Linked DNA regions of Homo sapiens: regions 1, 2 and 3 are each linked to region 4. Evidence: fine-mapped expression QTL. A gene starts in region 4. Each other region holds a variant in brackets. All regions are shown on one strand. Distances are from middle to middle. Region 1 has its middle 24 kb from the start of RWDD4. Region 2 has its middle 42 kb from the start of RWDD4. Region 3 has its middle 33 kb from the start of RWDD4. Region 4 holds the start of RWDD4 (RWD domain containing 4).

What was found. PIP is the estimated chance that this variant, and not a neighbour inherited with it, causes the effect.
Region 1: its variant is the best candidate, but not a certain one, in a credible set for the expression of RWDD4 in whole blood (INTERVAL, PIP 0.78).
Region 2: its variant is the best candidate, but not a certain one, in a credible set for the expression of RWDD4 in pancreatic islets (PISA, PIP 0.55).
Region 3: its variant is the best candidate, but not a certain one, in a credible set for the expression of RWDD4 in whole blood (INTERVAL, PIP 0.63).

What each region holds. Positions count from the first base shown.
Region 1 is chr4:183,632,216-183,638,018 of GRCh38, reverse strand. No RefSeq gene overlaps it. Among named protein-coding and RNA genes, the nearest start is that of RWDD4, 24 kb to the left of the region's middle. The variant A/G (reference allele first, on the strand shown) is at 3,162.
Region 2 is chr4:183,614,398-183,620,200 of GRCh38, reverse strand. No RefSeq gene overlaps it. Among named protein-coding and RNA genes, the nearest start is that of RWDD4, 42 kb to the left of the region's middle. The variant G/A (reference allele first, on the strand shown) is at 2,984.
Region 3 is chr4:183,622,800-183,628,602 of GRCh38, reverse strand. No RefSeq gene overlaps it. Among named protein-coding and RNA genes, the nearest start is that of RWDD4, 33 kb to the left of the region's middle. The variant G/A (reference allele first, on the strand shown) is at 2,713.
Region 4 is chr4:183,656,839-183,662,641 of GRCh38, reverse strand. It overlaps RWDD4 (RWD domain containing 4), which reads left to right and starts at 3,457. Exons shown (of 8, transcript NM_152682.4): 1 at 3,457-3,713. The coding sequence starts at 3,690. It overlaps TRAPPC11 (trafficking protein particle complex subunit 11), which reads right to left and starts at 3,349. Exons shown (of 30, transcript NM_021942.6): 1 at 3,195-3,349. RefSeq lists silencers at 3,038-3,327, 3,698-3,907, 3,722-3,942 and enhancers at 2,674-3,461, 3,418-3,547, 3,462-4,250.

The DNA of each region.
Region 1 (5,803 bases), 25 kb after region 4:
AAATAATAAATATAAAAGTCATGCTATGTAGTAACAATAGAGATTTGTGTTTGCGTGTTTTTACCTTTGAATATTCCAGAGTGAAAACAGAACAAGAGGGATTGGACATCTAAGATTCAAAATTTCAGTATTTTCAGTTAATGTGACAAAAAAATAAGTAATATGTAACCCAGAGTGATTTTCAAATTTGTGTTCCTTTAGTGAGGAAATTAATTAGGGGTCTTTACTAACATTTTTTAATGGAATGGGAGACAATAGAATTGAACAGAAAATACCAGCATGCACTACCTGTTGTAAGAGGGTTTTTTTTCCCTGTGAAAACTTTAGTTTGGGGTGTGCATGTATGGGTACTGAGTCACTATGTAAAGTTTATTAAAATGAGTCATGAAAAAAGTGTGAAAGCCACTGATCAGAGCACGCGAAAGATGAAACGACTTTTATATGAAGATTGTTAATTTTCAGAGGCACAAAATGTGCCTTTCAAAGGGCTAAGGACTTTTATCATTGATTTTTGCATTATTCCTGAAGATCAATTAAGTAAAGCTACATTGCACAATATGAGGAGAGGAGCAAGTGTTTGATTGAGAATGAGATCTTTAATGACTTTGTAAATTTGTAATAATGAAAATTCTTGCATGATAATTTTTGCTTATATGAAGAGCTGAGAACATTTTAAGAGGCAATGCCTGAATAAATAAGTAATTTTAATAGCCTTAATTTCTCACTAATGAGAACCAAAAATAAGAAAATTATTTTAACTTTCCCATTTCTAGAGGAATACCATTTTTGCTTGCTGAGCTTCCTGTATAAATCTAGTTTCCAGAATAAATTGTCGTAATAGGTTGATTGTGGTGATACAGTAAGGCAGGAAGCGTCCCCACCCCTGCCCGTTTTCTGTTTGTTATTGCTGGCACCTGGGAAGTTTTAAGTGATCTTGCCTGTTTGGCTGCAGCCTTCTGGATCTATAATAGGTCCTTTTCTCTGCCTGCCACGAAGTCTGGCCTGTTGGGAAACTATTCTTGATATTTTAAATAACAAACTACGTCTATGCTCTGTTGTTAGTGAAAGAGAATCCAGCTTAGAAAAGAAGGAAACTGTTGGGGAGTGGAGGGGGGGATGCAGATTTAAAATATTTTGCTTCATAATTGGGTGATTAGAAATCAACCTTAAAAGTTTAACACTGGGGCAGTTTTTAGAGTACACAAAGCAATCGGGGAAAATCTTTGTGTTTAACATGGCGGTGGAATTGACTAAGGAGGAAGCTTTTCCTCCTAACTGCTCCGGCTCTTCATTCTCCTGCTCCTACGGCAAGAAGACGCTGCATGCCATATGTTTGTTTTTACAGAGGGCAGTAGGTGTTCTGCATTGCTTACAGTCAGTCTCATCTGTGAAGGAACATACGAAGATTTGGACCCTGGAGCCTACGGGAGATTTTCATCTCTGAGGCTTCTTCGCAGAAAGCCAACACTTTAGCTTTCATATTCTCTTCACTATCCTTTGTATTACTAAAATCACACTTTTTTCAAATATCTACGCAACAGTATGATTATTTTTAAAACACAAAACTATTGGCCTGGTGTGGTGGCTCATGCCTGTAATCCCAGCACTTTGGAAGGCCAAGGCGGGAGGATCAGCTGAGGTCAGGAGTTCGAGACCAGCCTGGCCAACATGGTGAAACCCCATCGCTACTAAAAATAAAAAATTAGCTGGGTGGCCTGCAGTCCCAGCTACTCAGGATGCTGAGGCAGGAGAATCGCTTGAACCCAGGAGGCAGAGGTTGCAGTGAGCCGAGTTTGTGCCTCTGCACTCCAGCCTGGGTGACAGAGACAGACTCCGTCTCAAAAAACAAAAACAAAAAAACTATCAAACCTTTTCCTCCCCCTTCTGTTTTTCTGAAGATCGCTAAACCTACCATTGTCACTTTGCCATTTCACTTGATAAATTACACTAACAAAATATTCTTTACCTCCCACGGGCATCTCACAAATTTTAAATTGATAGATGTTAGTTTTTTTTGTTTGAAATTCTCATGATAACTGAGGAATCATGCAGTTTTGGTTATAAGAATGTCCGTCCATCTGCTGAAGGAAAGCTGAACTCCCGCTGCATGCTGACAAATACCATCTGTTACATTTTTCCGTTGGTTTCTATATTTTTCTTTTTATATGTCAGTGTTTTAAAATTTCTTATTTTTTATTTTTATCAAAGTCATACATGTAGATAGTTTTAGAAGGCAAGTAGTTCTGCAGGGCTTTTAATTTTGTAAAAAAAAGATCTTTTTCCCTTCTCTCACAATCTCCACCCCGCGGGGGTAACTAGTTTCGGCTACTTTTAGCGTGAACTAGTCTCTAAGGCCATAGACTCCTGCTAGCTCTGGCCCTCCCCTCGTCTTCCCCAACATGATCCTGCCTGTGGCCTTTGTTCTGGCTGTTTCCTCTGCTCCAAGTCTGCTTTTTACTGAGTGAGGCGGAAAGCCTTCAGAGGGTATGTATTGAGCGGAGGAGTGAGGGGATCTGACTTGTGTGTTGAGAATAGGCAAGCAAGAGGGAAGGCAGGAAGGCCAGTTAGGAAGCTGTTGAGGAAGTGGGTGAAGAATGACGATTCCTTGACAAGGGTGGGAGGTGGGAGTGGGTGAGAAGCGGTCAGTTTCTGGATATATAGTGAAGGAACTGCTGACGGGCTTGCTGGTGAATCCAACGAAGGATGTGGGAGAGCTAGAGGCATCGAAGCTAACTCCAAATTGGATTTTAGCCTAAGCAATTGAAAAAAAATCAATTGATAATGATACTAGTTTTGTTTAACTGATCCTATAAATAAGGCAATCCTATAAATAAGTAAGGTAATCCCAGTGAAACTGCAACTGGATTTTTAAAAGAAAGAAAAGCTGACTCCAAAGTTCTTAAGGAAAACTAAGCATACCAGAATAGACAAAAAAAAAAAATTTTTTTTCAAAAACAGTGATGATGTGAGTTTAGTTCTTTCAATTAGTCAAACATGGCCCAGCGCAGTGGCTCAGCCTGTAATCCCAGCACTCTGGGAGGCCGAGGCGGGCGGATCACTGGGTCTGGAAATCAAGACCAGCCTGGCCAACAATAATGAAACCCCGTCTCTACTAAAATACAAAAATTAGCTGAGTGTGGTCGTACACACCTGTAGTCCTA[A/G]CTACTTGGGAGACTGAGGTAGGGGAATTGCTTAAACCGGGGAGGTGGAGATTGCAGTGAGCCGAGGTCACACCACTGCACTCCAGCCTGGCGACAGAGCAAGACTCCATCTCAAAAAAAATAAAAATAAAATTTAGTCAAACATTTCCAGCAGCAAGAATTAAAGTGATACTGTGCTGATACCTGCTCAGATCAATGAAAGAAAATAGAGCCCAGAAATAGACCTAAATATATATATATGAGAAAATTTAATATGCAGTTTCTTCAATGTATGGTATTGGAGAACCAAAGAGCCACTGGGGGAAAAAGGAAAGGTACTCCTATCTCACTCTTAACATCGCAGTAAATTCAGAGAGATGAAAAAAACTTTTAAAATAAAATGGATTTGTAATCCCAGCATTTCGAGAGGCCAGGATGGGAGGATTGCTTCAGCATAGTAGTTTAAGACCAGCCTGGGAAACATAGTGAGACCTCCATCTCTACGAAAAATTTTAAAAATTAGCCTGGTGTGGTTGCATGTGCCTGTAGTCCCAGCTACTCAGGTGGCTGAGGTGGGAGGATCGCCTGAGCTGGGAAGGTCAAGGCTGTAGTGAATCTGTGATCATGCCCGTGTGTTCCAGCCTGGACAACAGAGCAACACCCTGTCTCAAAAAAAAAAAAAAAAAAAAAAAGAAAGAAAAGAAAAGAAATGGAGATTTTAAAAATAGTTTCAGGATGAGACAACCTTCCCAAAGTATGACACAAGACTCTGAAGCCATAAAGAAAATGTTACATTTGATGACATAAATGTAAAAAATTGTGCGTGGAAAAAATTGCATAAATAAAACTAAGAAAAAGTACTTTTAGTATACTTATACATAAAAAACTCTTAGATGTGACAGTTTCAGAAAAGGAAATGTAAATTTATGTTAAACAAAAGGACACACCCTCATCACAAGAGAAACTAAAACTGCAGGGAGATTCTGTTTTTCTCCTGTGACACTGGCGAAGACTGAATAGCTTGGTGACATATCAAAGGTGTGAGGAAACCGGTTCTCTCTCACAAGTTGTTTTGAGTGTAAGCTAATGCAACCTTGACAAAGGACAATTCAGCAATATCCATCAAAATCACAAAGGCCTTTGGTCCAGAAATTCCACTTCTAGAAATTGTTTCCACGTCTGTGCTTGTCTGTGTGAAATGATCCATGTACAGGGATAAAGTCTTGTGTCATTACTTGCCCATACTCATCAGTATCTTCAGGTATGTCCTGGGTCAAAGGAGCCGGATTAGACAGGGGATCAAAGAAAAGCATTTGCATCAGAGTAAGGGGGATGTACGAGAATGCATACCCTGCCACATTATTTGTGTAGATGTAAGAAAATGATGTCTTTCGGCCGGGCAAGGTGAGTCACACCTGTATAATCTCAGCACTTTGGGAAGCCGAGGCGGGCAGATCACCTGAGATCAGGAGTTCGAGACCAGCCTAGCCAACATGGTGAAACCCCGTATCTACTAAAAATACAAAAACTAGCTGGGCGTGGTGGCAGATGCCTGTAATCCCAGCTACTTGGGAGGCTGAGGCAAGAGAATCGCTTGAATCCAAGAGACGGAGGTTGCAGTGAGTCGAGGTCGCGCCACTGCACTCCAGGCTGGGCAACAGAGCAAGCCTCAGTCTCAAAAACAAACAAAAAAAGAAAATAATGTCTTTCCACTATAAAGTGGAGAATTATTGAGAGAGTCAGTCCACCACGGGCCCCGGGACCCTGCGTGTCTTTGCAGACTATGCCAACCTGCAGGGCCCACCACGCTCTGACCAGGGTGTAGCCATTTGTGTAGCTAGTCGTAGAGGCAACCACAGCACGACTGCCAGGCCACTGTTTGTCCCATAGGGAGGAGACTGGATTGTTACCACTTGCTATCAAAGGTGCAGAGCCTGGCCTGTGCCACGGGACTTGGGGTCAGGAGACCAAGCTCTGTCATGCTGAGCTGCTGTCGTGTGCTGTGCTGAGAGTAATGAATTGTCTCGCTCGGATCCACCAAGTCTTATCTACTGCCGGCAACCATGCGCTGTGGCAAGTCCATCGGCTTGCTTGCTCGGTCATCTCCTTTGGGTGTTGTTACTTCTGGCCATCCTCTGTGAGGTTGGGGTTCATCCCTTGATGGGAACAAGAGTACCGTAAATTACAAGGTTGTTTAAGAGATTGGAGAAAATGTTTGTAAAGAGCCTAATACTATAAGAGTAGGCAATAAGTGGTGGTGATTATTTTTAAAATAAATACTTTGTCACCTTTGTTCTAATCAGATGTCCTTGAATATTAATATCAAATGTTTTCCGGTTTATAAAATCTTGGCTGTTATTCTAATACATAAATGATCAAAACAGAGAAAAATACATTTTCTAAACCTGTGTGTTTCAGGCAGGCTGGTTTGTAACCTAGTAGTGGATACAAATTCAATTTAGGGCTGGGCACAGTGGCTCACACCTGTAATCCTAGTACTTTGGGAGGCCAAGGCAGGTGGATCACCTGAGGTCAGAGGTTCGAGACCAGCCTGGCCAACATGGTGAAACCCCTTCTCTACTAAAAATACAAAACTTAGCCTGGCGTGGTGGCAGGTGCCTGTAATCCCAGCTACTCGGGAGGCTGAGGCAGGAGAATCGCTT
Region 2 (5,803 bases), 42 kb after region 4:
CAACATCATCACAGCGTTAGCTGATGGGATATTTGTCCCTGTTGTGTTTTTTTTTTTTTTTTTTTTTTTTGAGACGGAGTCTCACTCTGTTGCCCAGGCTGGAGTATAGTGGCGCCATCTCGGCTCACTGCAACCTCCGCCTCCCAGGTTCAAGCAAATTCTCCTGCCTCAGCCTCCCAAGTAGCTGGGACTACAGGCACGTGCCACCATGCCCAGCTAATTTTTGTATTTTATAGTAGAGACGGCGTTTCACCGTGTTGGCCAGGCCGGTCTTGAACTCCTGACTTCAGGTGATCCGCCCGCCTCCGCCTCCAAAAGCGCTGGGATTACAGGCGTGAGCCACCGCGCCTGGCCGTCCCTGTGTTTTTTCTTGCACGCAGATCATCTAAAAATTATTTCAAATCAGTAACATCTTTGGGCAATGATGAGGGAGGGGGACGGAAAAAACAAGCCCTATTTTATGTTCCCTCAACAATCTAAATGTTACTTAAGCTATGCTTTGTTTATGGTTGTCTGTATACTTTGTGGAAAGACAAACAGGACAGTCTGACCCTGAAGATATGGGTTGCCTGGCAACAATCTAAATGGGACCAGAACCTCCCCCCTCCCCCTGCAGGAGGGGCTGTGCCCAAATGGAACTTCTCACAAGGTCAACAGGTGCTGGCAACAGGCTCTCCAGACAGCGAACTGCCTGAACAGCTGTCACCTAAGCCCAGCCTGCCCGATGCCCAAGCAGACATTTTGTTCCCCCTGGCAAGGCCACTCGGGTTTGCCCTTTAAAAAGAGAACCCAAATGAGTGGGGGCGGGGCCTTGAGGCCTTTCCTTGCAGTCCGGGGCTGTCTTAGTCCAACTAGCCGGACCCAAGCGTCCCTCCGCAGAGGTCTGAGGGGTGGAGACTGATCTTGCGGCATCTCTGCGTGTGAGTGCCAGCCTGCACCAAAAGACGCACTGTTGTCTGCCCAAACCCTTTCAGTGACGCGTTTTGTAAAAATCATCTATGTTTTCCCCCAAATAGCTGTCATCAGTGAAAAGCATCAAAGAAAATCCAATATATGACCACAGAAGAGATAATGCAAAAACTAAAACTGTTCCAAAATAATGCAATAAATATGTTTTCTAACACATGCAAATCAATTTTCTAATAAGATTTGTATGTATGTGTTAGCAAACCTTTATTAGGAACTAAGAGTTAATTCAATGTTAGTTAAACAGTGTGTAGGAAATACTAAGTCAAACTTCTGGAAGTGATTGCGAAAGAAAATCAATGTTTCTTTGAAAACAGATAGTTACAGAGACAGTGATGGTTCATTATGTCTCAACTTGGCTTGGCTGTGGGGCCCAGCTGCTTGGTTAAACACTAACTTGGATGTTGCTGTGAAGGTATTGTGTAGATGTGATTGATACGTACAATCAGCTGACTCTGAGTAAAGTAGATTATCCTCTTGAATGTGGGTGAGCTTCATGCAATCAGCTGAAGGCTTTCAGAGCGGAGACTGAGCCTTTCCCGAGAAAAAAGGAATTCTGCCTCGAGCCTGCAGCACAGAAACTCTGAGTGAGTTTCCGGAGGGCTTGGCCTGCTTTGCAGATTTCGGACTCGAGACGGTAACATCAACTCCTGCCTGAATTTCCAACCTGTGGGCCTGTCCTAGAGATTTCAGACTTGCCGGCCTCCTCAATTACTTGAGCAATTCTTTAAAATCTCTCTCGCTGTCTCTTTGTATGTGTATGTATACATACACACATACATATATATCTCTTATTGGTTCTGTTTCTCCAGAGAACCCTGACTGATACGATTATTTATTCTATTAAGCATTTTACAGAAGTTATTTGAGCAAGAAATGTTTAACAGCTGAGTTTTTCTTTTTCTTTTTTTTCTTTTTTTTTTTTTGAGATGGAGCCTCGCTGTGTCACCAGGCTGGTGTGCAGTGGTGCGATCTCGGCTCACCGGAACCTCCGCCTCCCGGGTTCAAGTGATTCTCCTGCCTCAGCCTCCCGAGTAGGTGGGACTACAGGCGCCCGCCACCACGCCGGGCTAATTTTTTGTATTTTTTAGTAGAGACGGGGTTTCACCGTGTTAGTCAGGATGGTCTGGATCTCCTGATCTTGTGATCTAACCACCTCTGCCTCCCAAAGTGCTGGGATTACAGGCGTGAGCCACTGTGCCCGGCCTCTATATTTACTCTTACTGTAAATGTCATGAGTCAAAGAAATTCCTCAACTGCACTTGGTCACTTGTTTCAATGTCAAAATATATTTAATGTAATTTTGTCTGAAAGTCTAATTTGACTTTATTTTACTGTCATCTGAACATATTCTCTCTTATTTTCCACTCAATGTGAAGATTAAAGTCTCAATCTCTGTGGACTATACAGTAAAGGAATTAAGCCATATGTAATACTACCTTTTCCAGCCAACAGTAATTATCTTAATCAAATTTAGGATAATATGATATTTGGATGATTTCACATTTAGTTCTAAGTAGTAGTATTTAAGAAAAAAACAGGCTGGGCCCAGTGGCTCATGCCTGTAATCCCAGCACTTTGGGAGGCCAAGGTGAGTGGATCATTTGAGCTCAGGAGTTCGAGACCAACCTAGGCAACATGGTGAAACCCCGTCTCTACAAAAGACACAAAAATTATCCCGGTGTGGTAGTGCAGCCCTGTGGTCCCAGCTGCTCAGGAGGCTGAGGCAGGAGGATAGCTTGAGCCTAGGGTGGTCAAGGCTGCTTTGAGCCAAGATCAGGCCACTCTGTACTCCAGCCTGGGTGACAGAGCCAGACTGACCTTGAAAAAAAAGAAAGAGGAAGGAAAGAAAGAAAGAAGAAAGGAAGGAAGGAAGGGGAGGGAAGGGGAGGGAAGGAAGGGAAGGAAGGAAGGAGACAGAAAGAGAGAGAGGAAGGAAGGAAGGAAAAGAAAGAAAAAGAGAAGAAGGAAGGAACAAAAAGAAAGAGAAAGAAAAGAAAGGAAGGAAAGGAGGGAG[G/A]GAGGAAGGGAGGGAAAAGAAAGAGGAAGGAGGGAGGGGAAAAAAAGAAAGAAAAATAAAAGAAAAAAAGTAGGGCTTAGTGGCAGTCCCTGTATTGTTTTCACCTGGCAGGCCGCGTAGTGTGAGGAGAGTGGAGGGGTCTGGCCAGGAGGGGAGACTGAACACACACAAGAGGGATTAGTCCAATAGTGAAACATATTGAAAGTGGTGGGAGTCAGGCTTTTCATTGTTGGAAATGAGCTGCAGGGTGAATGATAAGACAACTAATCTGAACCTTATGGTGTTGGATTGGAATTAAAGGCATTGGTGCAAACTCATGGTTTTGAATATATAGATAAGGGTCGGGTGCAGTGGCTCACACCTGCCTTTAATCCCAACATTTTGGGAGGCCAAGGTCGGAGGATCACTTAAGGCCAGGAGTTTGAGACCAGCCTGGGCAACACAGTGAGGTCCCTTCTTTACAAAAAAATTAAGAATTAGCCAGGTGTGGTGGTGCACACCTGTAGTTCCAGCTACTTGGGAGGCTAAGGTGGGAGGATCGCTTGAGCCCAGGAGGTTGAGGCTGCAGTAAGCCAAGATCGTGCCACTGCATTCCAGCCTGGGTGACAGAATGACACCATGTCTCAAAAAAATTATATAGATAAATAAAGATATAATATATTATACAAATATGTGTCTATATTATGTATAATATGTAGATTTAAATGCAGATGAGTGTGTATAATCCTGGATTATGGGGGGGAGGTCCCCAATGTGGTCACAAGGGCGCTTACACAAAGCAGCCATGAGGAGCAGAATCAGAGAGAGGATAAACGGATGAAAGCAGAGGTCAGAGAGGAGGGAAGGTGCTATGCTGATGGCTTGAAGATAGAGGAGGGGGCCATAGCCCAGGAATGCAGGCGTCCTCCAGAAGCTAGAAGGCAAGGGAACGGCTTCTTCCCTGGTGCCTTTAAGAGGAACACAGGCCTGCCAGTGCCTTGATTTTAACCTAGTGACACCGATGGGGAACGTCTGGCCTCCAGAGTTACAAAATAATACATTTAAGTTGTTTTAACCCGCTAAGGTTATGGTAGTTTGTTATAGCAGCACTAATACAGTATGACACACAATAGGACACTAATGCAAGTGGCAACAAGTAAATGGAGAAAAAAATGATGCAGTTAGAAAAATCACTGTTTGGTCATTAATAAGGCAATAATTAAATCATCCAAAAATATCAATGGAAGCTAAAATCAGTGAGTCAATGTTTGATAAGAAATGGAATATTGAGGCTGGGCACGGTGGTTCACGCCTGTCATCCTAGCACTTTGGGAGGCCGAGGTGGGCGGTTCACCTGAGGTCAGGAGTTCCAGACCAGCCTGGCCAACATGACGAAACCCAGTCTCTACTAAAAATACAAAAATTAGCCGGGCGTGGTGGCGGGCACCTGTAATCCCAGCTACTCGGGAGGCTGAGGAAGGAAGATTGCTTGAACCTGGAAGGTGGAGGTTGCAGTGAACTGAGATCACGCCACTGTACTCCAGCCTGGGCAAGTGAGTAAGACTATCAGAAAGAAAGAGAGAGAGAGAGAAAGAGAGAGAGAGAGAGAGAAAGAGAGAGAGAGGGGGAGGGAGGGAAAGGAAAGAAAAGAAAGAAGAAACAAAGAAAGAAATGGGATATTTAAATAGTCCCACGTTTCCTTACTGATTCCAAAACATTAGTCATGCACAGTGGAGAAATCTGACAAATACCACCTTAATCAAGTTGATCTCAGCAGAAACGGACAAATCAGAATCATTTGCCACCTGATAGAAGGCAGCGAGAAGACAGCCTCTAGATTGAAAGTGAGTAGAGACATGACCAGTGAAAGCAGCGGGAGACCCTGTCCTGGATCCTTTGACTATAAAGGATACGACTGGTGCAATTGGAGAAACTGGGGTGGAATCTGTAGAGTAGGTGGTAGGAAGATTTCATTGTTAATTTCCTGATTTTGCTGGTGGTATGTTTGCTTGTGTAGGAGAATCTCCTTGTTTGTAGGAATTACAAACTAAAGAATTCAGAATGATGGGGCTTTGTGTCAGCATTACTCTCACATGGTTCAGGGAAAAAAAGTCCTACTATTCTTGAAAATTTCAGTATGTTCGTAATTGTTTGAAAATCAACAACAACAAAAGAGGTATAGGCTCCAGGGAAGATTTTGTCTCCTTGCCTTTCCTGGCTTTTGCATTTCTTTACTCAAGGCCCCTTCCTCAATCTTCAAAGCATCTTCGCCTCTCTCTGACCTCTGTGCCCATCCTTACATCTTCTCTCTGACCCTAACTCCACTGCCTCCTTCTTGTAAGTACACTTGTGATTACTTTGGGTTCATTAGGATTATCCCGGGTGCACATTGCTTATTTTTTTAAACAATATATCTTAAGGGTCTTTCCCTGTCAGATCTTTTAAACATAGTTTTCCTTACTATAAATAAACTGTAATTTATCCATTTCTCTATAAATTGTTTCTAATTATTAGCCATTGCAAACCATGTTATGTGGTATATTCCTGCACTTGTATTCTTCTGCATGTGTCAATATTTCTGTTAAGTCAAAGAACAATTGCTGTACGAAGACATGGGACATTTTGTTAGATGGTGACAAATTGTCATCCCAGAAGACTGTACTTTTAGACTCACTCTGGGTGCACTGCCGAGGAGTTAGCTCTGGAGCAACTAAGGAAAAAAAAAAAAACAGAAACAACTATACCTTTAGATTCCTACCAACAGGCAGAGACCATTCACCCATACATTTACTGAAACAGGATAGTATCAGCTTTCAAATGAGTAAAATATGGTATGTTGTC
Region 3 (5,803 bases), 34 kb after region 4:
CTGGGTTGCCTCTGACTTGCCCAGGCTGGTGCGTCTTTCCATGACACACAACAGCTGGCATTTTCATGCCTCTGAAGACCTGCCATTTCATTTCACTGGGGACTCACTGCAGTGCAGACAAGCAAGCATGTTCCCTGAGTCAAAAGGGACACACCAGCTCACACAGCGCGACCTCTACCTGATGGGAGCCCATAGTGTACCGAGAAGGCCACAGCAATGTCTTCCCTGATTCTGGACGTCCACTGGAGGCCAAGGGCCGTCAAAGCCCCAGAGGGTCCATGTCAAGTCTGGCTTCCTTGGAGTAAGTTCATTTTTGTGTGTGTGTTTCTTGGGAGATCCCAACAACCGCGCATTCAGCATTCAGAACAGATGGCCTTTATTTCAGCAGGTGTTTCTGGCTGACAGCTTATAGAAGATGGGCATCACAAATAGCATCAGCCTCTACAGAAAGGGGGAGAAAGACAGCTGGGAAAGTTGTAAGGAGCCCCAGAGCAGCTTGTTCTCCCTCGCCATGGGCGGTTGGTTCTCCCTTGGCCCACGTCCTCAATCTGAAATACTCATCCCGCTCCTCTTGTCCTTTACCTTCCTCCAAATATGGCTCAGGAGCAATGTCCTCCTAGAAGCCTTACTCTCCCTGAAATCTAAACACAAACACAGTAGATACATGATCTTTCCTCCAAGCCACCAGAACCCTAAAGACATGCATCAAAAATCTGAGATTGCAAACAAATGGAAGTGCAAAAATACAACATTCATGTGCTGTTGGAAGTTTTGGTCTGGGCCGGGTGCAGTGGCTCACACCTGTAATCCCAGCACTTTGGGAGGCCGAGGCGGGTGGATCACCTGAGGTCGAGTTCAAGACCAGCCCAACCAACATGGTGAAACCGCGTCTCTACTAAAAATACAAAATTAGCCAGGCGTTGTGGTGCTTGCCTGTAACACCAGCTACTCGGGAGGCTGAGGCAGGAGAGAATCACTTGAACCCAGGAGATGGAGGTTGCAGTGAGCCGAGATCACGCCATTGCACTCCAGCCTGGGCAACAAGAGCAAAACTCTGTCTCAAAAACAACAACAACAACAAAGGAAGGTTTGGTCTGGACTTACTAAGAACCAGTAGTATGCAATGAGATTTGGCAGGACTCCAAGGAAGATGCTCTTGCTTTCTGGCTTAAGCCAAGAGGCTGTAAGGTTTGAACTTGCTGCAGTCTCACCTTGTGATCAATGGAGAGTCAGATAGTAGCAGGGACTGAATGCTAAAAAACCGACAGGGAGCTGGGCACAGTGGCTCAACCTATAGTCCCAGCTACTCAGGAGGCTGAAGCAGGAGGGTCGCTTGAGCCCAGGAGTTTGAGGCTGCAGTGAGGTATAATCACACCACTGCACTCCAGCCTGGGTGACAAAGCGAGACCCTGTCTCAAACAGACAAGAACCACAAAGCCTACAGGGGCTGGGCTGTCACAAAATGTAAGCAGGTTCGGTTTAGAGAAAAAAAACAACACAAAGCACTAAGGAATGATGAGTTTCTACTTAGCCTCCAAGTCAGTGACAGTCAGGGGTAATGGGGAGTATGGTGATTTGTGGAGTTCAAAGTTAGCCGCTGCTATGTGACTCCAGCCTGTTATTGCCATGGAAGAAGAAAAGTAGAGCATTACTAGATCTTTTAAACAGTAGCCAGAAAGTCATGTTTTCATTTTTATTTATTTATTTGGAGACGGAATTTCGCGCTTGTCACCCAGGCTGGAGTGCAGTGGCACAATCTCAGCTCACTGCAACTTCCACCTCCCAGGTTCAAGCCATTCTCCTGCCTCGGTCTCCAAAGTAGCTGGGATTACAGGTGTGCACCAGCACACCTGGCTAGTTTTTGTATTACTAGTAGAGACAGGGTTTTGCTATGTTGGCCAGGCTGGTCTCGAACTCCTGACCTCAGGTGATCCACCTGCCTCGGCCTCCCAAAGTGCTGGGATTACAGGCATGAGCCACCACACCTGGCCTAAAAGTTGTGTTTTTATGTAGACTCTCCTGAATTTTACACATTTGTACTTAAAATATTCAAAAAAACAGGCCTAAAAAAATATGGCCATGGGCTAGAATTCAACCCCTGGACCATAAGCTTGTGATCCCGGCAAAGCAAGGCCATCCTGTATGTTTGTACTTGCTCAAGGGGCTCACATGAATCACCAAGCTGTATGCCCAGGCTTGAGACAGTCTCAATGTGGACGAAGAAAACCTTTTTCCTGGTTGGTCTGCCAAAAGGATGGGTTTCCTTTTCCCAGTTTGTACAAAGGTGCCTGTATGTACCAGCAGTTATCCTGCAGCCAAGATAAACCGCCCAATAGTAAGGCTACTGAGAGGTTTCCCAGGACACAGGACTTTCAGTGATAAAACGGGTGCAGTGGCTCGTGCCCGTAATCCTAGCACTTTAGGGAGGCCAAGGCGGATCTGACAAGTTGGTCACCCTCAACATGACTGTGCCCAGCCTCTGTTCATGATGTTAATTTCTTTGGTTCTTTGGTTAATTTCTTTGCGGGATCTGTGCAAGCTGTTCTGTTAAAAGTTAAGTAGAAGTACATTTGCTTATAATTACAACTTACAGTAGATTTTATGAAGGAAAATACAGGGTTTTATGAGCTAGATTGATGGGAAGAACCCACACTTGTAGCCAGGTGGTAGGTACAATTCATGCTGAGAAAAGGGTGCCAGGTGCCTGTAGCC[G/A]ACCTCTGCATCCCCTATTCCTGCTCCAGGCAGGCAGCCTCCTGCCTACGCCCCTGTGACTCCAGCTGGGCCAGGCCAGCCTGGGGTAGCACGTAAGACATCCAGGTCAGCTAGTAAATACTCCTTTTTTTTTTGAGATGGAGTTTTTGCTCTGCCGCCCAGGCTGGAGTGCAATGGCGTGATCTTGGCTCACCGCAACCTCCACCTCCTGGGTTCAAGCAATTCTCCTGCCTCAGCCTCAGCCTCCCGAGTAACTGAGATTACAGGCACATGCCACCACGCCCAGCTCATTTTGTATTTTTAGTAGAGACCATGTTGGCCAGGCTGGTCTCCAACTCTTAACCTCAGGTAATCCACCCGCCTTGGCCTCCCAAAGTGCTAGGATTATAGGCATGAGCCACTGCACCCGGCCTACTCCTGCTTTTTTTAATTATCATTGGTGGGTACTAGTGTTTGGCCCAAAGACCACATTTCTCTATTCAGCCTCTCCTCTGCAGACAGTTTTTAAACTTGTGTGTGTGTGTATATATATACATACATACATATATGTATATATATATATATATATATATATATACAGTCAGCCCTCCGTGTTCATGGGTTCTGCATTGCTGGATTCAACCAACTGTGGATCGAAAACACTCGAAAAAAAATCGTGCCTGTACTGAACATGTACAGACATTTTTTGGGGGTCAGTATTCTCTAACCAATAGAATATAACAATTGTTTACATAGCAATACATTGTATTGGGTATTATAAGGAATCTAGGGATGATTTAAAGTATACGGGAGGATGTGTATGGTTCTAGGCAAATACTAAGCCATTTTATATCAGGGACTTGAGCATCCTTGGATTCTGGTATCTGAAGGGGTCCTGGAACAAATCTTCTGTGGATACTGAGGGAATCCTATATCTATATTGGTCTTTTTTTCCCCTACACAACAGTAATGGAGAGAAACAGCCAGCTCTCCTACTCCTTTAACATCTTGGATTAATCAAAACAAGTCAGACAAAGACTTACCTGCTTATTCCAGCTCAGGGTCGGGAGTGGCCACACAGTCCTTCACAGCAGCCTAGGGCACCAGGTGGGACCCGCCCTGGCCAGAACACCCTCCTGTCCTAGGGCGACTCATAGTCACCCACATTCACTCACACTTACTCACACTCACCCTCAGTCACACACACACCCATATACACCCACATACCTTTGCCTCGTCTGTGACTCCCTAACAATATTTCTCTAGCCTGGAAGTCCTCCCTTCCCTGACCCAGTTCTTTGGTATCATATGTGAGAGCATTATCAATAAATATAATGGGGGCCGGGCGCAGTGGCTCACACCTGTAATCCCATCACTTTGGGAGGCCGAGGTGGGTGGATGCAGGTAACTAAATCCACAGAAAGTGAAATCGCCGATAAGGGGGGATTACTATATATATGTACATGTATATATAGAGAGAAATACATTAGGAGAGAGACAGAGAAGGAGAACAGTAAAGTAAATATATGGAAGACTGGGCACGGTGGAGTTGGAGACCAGCCTGGCCGACATGGTGAAACCCCATCTCTACTAAAAATACAAAAATTACATGGGCGTGGTGATGTGTACCTGTAATCCCAGTTACTCAGGAGGCTGAGGCAGGAGAATCACTGGAACCTGGGAGGTAGAGGTTGCAGTGAGCTGTGATCGCACCACTGTACTCCAGCATGGGTGACAGTGAGACTCTGTAAAAATAAATAAACTCCAAAAAATAAATGTAATGCGTTTCAATTATTTATACAAAAATTTCAGGAAAAATATAAAATAAAAAATTATTATTTTATTTTATATTTCCACATGCTAATTTTAAAATTGTTGCAATAGGCCGGGCGTGGTGGTGGTGCACATCTGTAATCCCAGCACTTTGGGAGGCTGAGGTGGGTGGATGGCTTGAGCCCAGGAGTTCGAGACCAGCCTGGCCAACATGGCGAAACTACTACTAAAAATACAAAATTTAGTGGGCGTGGTGGCAGGCGCCTGTAATCTCAGCTACCCAGGAGGCTGAGGTGGGAGGATCACTAGAGCCTGAGGAAGTCGAGGCTACAGTGAGCCCAGATCACACTACTACACTAGAGCCTGGGCAACAGAGCAAGATGCTGCCTCAGAAAAAAAAAATTGTAACAATATAATGTGGACGCGTATTTATTTTCAAGACTGTTTAACTGTTGCCTCGGTCAACTCTGTGCTGAGATCTTCTTGCAAGCATGAAGTGAGCTCCCTCCCTCTGTAATTCTCACCTTTGAATGGCCGCACAGTTCCAGTTTGTTAACAGTGCTGGCTGCGTGGGTTCCACCCTTGGCTCTCCGGCTTTCTAAGCTGATGAGCTTGTGTGCTCCCTAACTTCTCTGTGCTTCAGTTTGTCCGTCTGTAAAGTGGGGACAGGAGCATGAGTCGCCACCTGGTGGGGTTTTATGTACAGTATTTTGTATTTTCAGTAGAAACAGGGTTTCACCATGTTGGCCAGGCTGGTCTTGAACTCCTGACCTCGGGTGATCCACCCACCTCGGCCTCCCAAAGTGCTGGGATTACAGGCATGAGCCACTGTGCCCGGCCCACAGAGTGTTTTCTATAGGGTCCTCCATGGTCACTATAGTTAGCTAGAAACTACAGATACTACTTAGCCCTGAGCTTTCTGAATGTCAAGGATAAAAGGGAAACAGTTTCATACTTTAAACAGGCAAAAAGAGAAACTCTACAACCTTTGGAAAAAATTAAAGCTTTTATAGGTTTTAATTGTAAGAATTTGCTCATATGAAGTTTCACAATTGGGATGCAGAGGTTTAAGCCTCCCACAAGTATAGTAATGGATTTCATAAGATTATTTCTTCTATTCATTTCATTTTTGAAGTAATTTCAGACCACAAACAATTGCAAAAAATGTACAAAGAGGTTGCTAATACTCTTCATCTAGATTCCTCAATGTTGTATTTGTTGTATTTTCCCATATATTCACTTTTTTTTATTTTTCTGAAATGGAGTTTCACTCTCGTTGCCCAGACTGGAGTGCAGTGGCTCAATCTTGGCTCACCTGCAACCTCTGCCTCCCGGGTTC
Region 4 (5,803 bases):
GTAATTATCTAAATAGTAGCTATGTTGTCTCATTTCCCACAATATAAAATTTACTCTTTAAAGAAAAATCTGTAAGGGAAAAACTAACAATGAATGGAAACCTCTCGGAGGATGTTTCCACTGCGTCCTTTAGCTAAGAATCAGTCCATAATAAATCTAACGTATGCCCTGACTTTATAAGTATATAAAACTATGTTTATCCCGAACAAGACTGTCATTATATTTTTAATATAATCTTACTTGCAAAAGGATGTAACAACATGAGGTTCTTTTTTTTTTTTTTTTTTGAGACGGAGTATCACTCTGTCACCAGGCTGGAGTGCACTGGCCCAATATCAGCTCACTACAACCTCCACCTCCCGGGTTCAAGTGATTCCCCTGCCTCAGCCTCCCTAGTAGCTGGGACTACAGGCATGCACCACCACACCCAGCTAATTTTTTGTATTTTAGTGGACAGGGTTTCACCATGTTGGCCAGGATGGTCTTGATCTCGTGACCTCAGGCGATTGCCAGCCTTGGCCTCCCAAATGAGGTTCTTTTAAAAGATAATCTATACCAGCATATTACAGAGAATTCAGGTAAGGCACAAGTGGCTCATGCCTATAATCCCAGCACTTTTGGAGGACAAGGCCAGAGGATTGTTGAGGCCAGGAGTTCAAGACTGGCCTGGGAAACATAGTGAGATCCTGTCTCTAAAAGAAATAAAAAAGAAAATAGCCGGGCATGGTGGTGCTCACTTGTAGTCCCAGCCACTTGGGAGGCTGAGATGGGAGGATCACTTGAGTCTAGGTGTTTAAAGTTACAGTGAACTATGATTGTGCCACTGCACTCCAGCCTGGGTGACAGAGCAAGATTGTGCCACAAAAAAAAAAAAAAAAAAAAAAGTTATTCCAAACAAAATTATCACTACATTTTAAATATAATCTTATTTGAAAAAGAATGTGTCATGAGGCTCTTTTAAAAGGTAATCTGGCCGGGCGCGGTGGCTCACGCCTGTAATCCCAGCACTTTGGGAGGCCGAGGCGGGCGGATCACAAGGTCAGGAGATCGAGACCATCCTGGCTAACATGGTGAAACCCCGTCTCTACTAAAAACACAAAAAATTAGCCGAGTATGGTGGTGGGCGCCTGTAGTCCCAGCTACTCGGGAGGCTGAGGCAGGAGAATGGCGTGAACCCGGGAGGCGGAGCTTGCAGTGAGCGGAGATCGCGCCACTGCACTCCAGCCTGGGCGACAGAGCGAGGAGACTCCGTCTCAAAAAAAAAAAAAAAAAAAAAAAAAGGTAATCTACACCAGTATACCAGTATATTATGGAGAAGTCTAACACAATCTTTGTGAAAAGTGAGGCACACTTAGGCTAATACCTAATCCCCAAAACATGGAATATTTTCAACTGAAAGGTTAATTTAGGAAAGACTATTAGTCTTCTCATGTTTACATACTGAAAGAACAACAGGTATTCAATAAATGATTTGCAAAGCTTGCCAGAAATGTCTACAACAGATTGTTTTAGAATTGTTTAAATATTTTTAGGACAGGATTAAGTTATGAGGGCAAAGGATTGCATGTTCAGAGAAAGAAACAGTCTAGTTCTGGGTAATGTAGGAATGAAAATTAAAAAGGGGTGACCAGGCTGGGTACAGCGGCTCACGCCTGTAATCCCAGCACTTTGGGAGGCCAAGGCGGGCGATTCACGAGGTCAACGGTTCAAAACCAGCCTGGCCAATAGGGTGAAACCCCGTCTCTACTAAAAATACAAAAATTAGCCGGGCATGGTGATGCGTGCCTATAGTCCCAGCTACTCGGGAGGCTGAGGCAGGAGAATGGCTTGAACCCGGGAGGCGGAGATTTCAGTGAGCCGAGATCGCACCACTGCACTCCAGCCTGGGCAACAGAGCAAGACTCCGTCTCAACAACAACAACAAAAAACAAGTGACCAAAATACAATACGGGCCCCTTTGCTTAATATGAACGAGTCTAGACTAGAGGCCATTTCCTGTAATAACTCCAGAGGCCCAAAAGACATAGCTGTGGTCTTTAAATATGGAGTTGAAATAAGAGGAACTAAAAATGACTGTCATCCAATAGAAATACAAGTCACATAAATAAATTAAAAATTTCTAGCAGTCATATTAAAAAGTAAAACGTGGATGGAATTCATTTTAATATTCAATTTAACGCAGTACAGTATGTCCAAAATATTATCATACTGACAATAATATAAAAGTTATTAATGACATATTTTACCTTTTTTTGTACTGAGTCTTCAAAATCTGGTGTGTATTTCACACTCACAGCACATCTCAATTCAGACTAGCCTATTTCAAATGCCTGATGTAGCTACTGGCTACAGAACTGGACAGCAGAGATCTAAATTATGGGAAATGTGTCCCAAAATTGCTGCACGAAAATTGTATCAGAAAGTCTTGCCACATTCTCCTATGTCACCTGAAATGGTCGTGCTTATTCTGCAGCAAAGGAATTTGAATGAGAACCCCGATAACGCACAGGCGCAGATCGAATGGATTTCAATGACAGGCTGGAAGGAGAAATTTTCAGATATCCAATGGAGCAACCAACGAAACTATACACGAAAGGAGGCGCAGCTATAGAAGGTGAATAATGGATGGGAGATCAAGTAATGCAAGGGAAGTAAACTGGAAACTAGCGTGAAAGATAAGAAAGGTGACCCAATCAAATTGGCAACTAAAAAAACCCCAAAACCTAATGTGGTTACTTTTTTTTTCTTTTAACTAACTGGAAGTTCAGGGTGTTAGGACACAAGGCTGCTAAGAATGGGATTCAGAGATGTTCAACTACAAAACGAACAAAAGAGGAACGACAGTGTGGGGACGAAATGATGTTTCGATGTTAAAGATGAGAAGCAACAATCCAACGTAGGAGAAACACCGTCCCCATGGTCCCAGTATCTGTTCTGGTAGCTCCAGTGAGGAAAGGTAGAGAAATAACCTTGCAGTCCCTAAAGGCAGATATCTTCCTCCTCTTATTCCCCCGTCTTAAACCTGGGAGGCCCTAGAAACGGGTGCGTCTTTCCTCGGGTCTAAAAGAGAAGTGCCAGGATTGCACCCGTCGATGGGATTGCAAAACGCAGGCCCCCAAACCAGCATTGTTAAGAGCTAGCTCTCTTCCTCGGCGGTCCCGCCTGGCCCCGCGGGTCTCCGGGCCCGGACTCACCCAGGCCCCACGCCCCGGGCCCGCTGCAGCTGAGGCCGGTCGCCGCCAGCCGGGAGAAGACGAGGGGAGGCGGGGGGATGTCACAGAACGCCGTGGCCCGTCCCCACCGCCGCAGCCCCACAGCCAGTTCCAACAGGCGAGACTTCCCTGTACCCACCTCCCCCGGCACAGGAAGCACTTTCTGGGCCTGAGTGACCGCGCTCTACACCAATCGCTGTCCCGGAACTTTACGCCGCTCCTCCAAGCGTCAGGGAGACGCTGCACTTCCCAGGCCCCACCAGCCGCGGCTCCGGCTCGTAGCCCACAGCCCACTGCCGGCGGCTGGGCGCTGCCGAGGCTCGGGGCGCGCGCAGTTGGCGTCTGCCAGTGCCAAGACTGTGCCGCCCCCACAGCCGAGGCGCGAAAGGGGGACGCCCGGCCTCTGGGCCGCTGCCTTCGCTTTCTCTTCGTTGTTGCGAACGCCGTCCGCTCAGGAGGCGCCCCGCGACCGGCGCGATGAGTGCCAACGAGGACCAGGAGGTGAGCCCCCCGGCTCAGGGCCCTCTCCCAGCGCGGGCGCGGCGCGCAGCCCCGGGCCCCCGTGAGACCTGGTGCCCGGACAGCCTGCCCGGCACGTGCCCTGTGCCCTCGGAGCCGGCCGGGGTGCCCCGAGTTCACCGGCGTCCCACCCAAGCGCGCGTGAATGGCCAGGAGTCCGCCTCTGCCACTCTTCCCCCCTCATTTTTCATTTTTGCAAATCCGGGAGTCTCCCCTGGTTACTTAATAACAGGGATGAGCGTCCTTGGTGCACGATCCAGTGCTCTTGGCTCTCCTTGAATCCCATGTGTTCAGTGCCTGTTTACTGAGTTAGGCTGATCACCTTTAAATTTTAGTCTGGTCATCTTTAAATCTCTTGGCTAGTAGAGGGCTAATTGAGTTAGTTACATTTCTCATGGAAGAAAATGACACTGGTGGTGCATCTGAGTTTCTGTCCATATTGTTTGGGGAAATCTTTTACCCATCTGTCTGTTTTGAGCATTCATGTACCACCTGAATTTATGGTTTATGCTCAAATATTTCCTTGTGAGATGCCATTTTGACATTGAATCATATAATATTAGAGTTGGGGGGTGGGTGCTACGGGCCATCTGTAGGGGAACCTTCTAACTTTGATAGGTGGGTCGATGATAGCCGCAGGGCTGCACAGTAAGTACGTGGTAGAATCGGGACTAGAAACCAGGTCTTATTGGGTGGTAGATAAGTTCACTGTTAATTTAAAGTATAATGCTTGAAACTTACTACTTTTACATGATAAATGTAATAGAATCTCTGGATTGGAAGTTAACCTTTAAAGGACCCAAAGTCCAACAAGCTAGCTAGTTGATATCTGAATCTCTTCTAAAATATTCTTGCCGGGTGAATTTCTAAGTGAATGCGTTAATAGCTTCTTCTCCCTGCAAAGCAAAGAACATACAGTGTAATGTTTCTCAGAGTTGGACCATAGTCCCCTACCTTAGAACCATTTAGATGGTTGCTAGAAAACAGATGCGTGCACTCCACCCCAGACCTACTGAATCAGAATTTCTGTGGTGGGCCCAGGAATCTCCAGTTTAACAAGAAAATTTCATTCTTCTTTCAGATGACCGATGTTCTGATCTTTGAAGATAGTTTCCTGCCCAGTTTCTCAGACCTTCTCTGAGGAAGTGGTTCCTTTTAGCTTGTCTTCATATATCCATTCTTTGTTAATCTCTTCACTATCCTGGAATCACGTGTTTGTGGACAGATTTTAATTTTTTAAATGTCCTGTTTCAAAATTGTGGCATCTTGCTGTTTTGTCTAGTTAAATTTACTGTCAACTGAAATCTTTTAAGTGCTTTATACAAAGCAATTTGTCTTTCATCTTCAACTTCTACATTTAGGTATCTGAGTATTGATACAAGTTCTACTTACCCTGCTAAATTTCATCATTAGCTTGCTTTTCAAAGACTTTTTGGATTCTTATTCAGCCATCAGCATTATTCACTGTCCCAACAAATTGTCATCCACAAATTTAATAAACTTGCCTCCTATTTTTGTACCTGTCCAAGTCATAAATTAAAATATGGGAAAGGATTAGGGACAGAAGGAGTAGTACTATATCTTGAGTAAGGTTTTTGTTCCAATCTAATCTTAGTTATTCTTGAATCCGGCTTGAATTTCTGTATTTTGTTTTTTTTTGTTTTTTCTGTAAAGGTAGCAAGAGAAACCTGTGGAGCCTGGCTGAAATCTATATAGTCGGTGTTTTATGCCTTTCTTCATTGTGCCAATCAAGTTTCCCTATCTAAGAAGGGTATATCTTGTTTTTCATATACTTACTAGGTCTTAGGGTCTACTCCTTAATGTCCCAGTTCCTCACACACTGTTTCTTCAACAATGTCTTTTTGCTGTTGTTGTTGCTATTTTTGAGACGGAGCCTCGCTCTGTAGCCCAGGCTGGATTGCAGTGGCCCGATCTCGGCTCACTGCAACCTCCGCCTCCTGGGTTCAAGCGATTCTCTTGCCTCAGCCTCCTGAGTAGCTGGGACTACAGGCGCCCATCACCACACCTGGCTAATTTTTGTGTCTTTAGTAGAGATGGGGTTTCACCGTGTT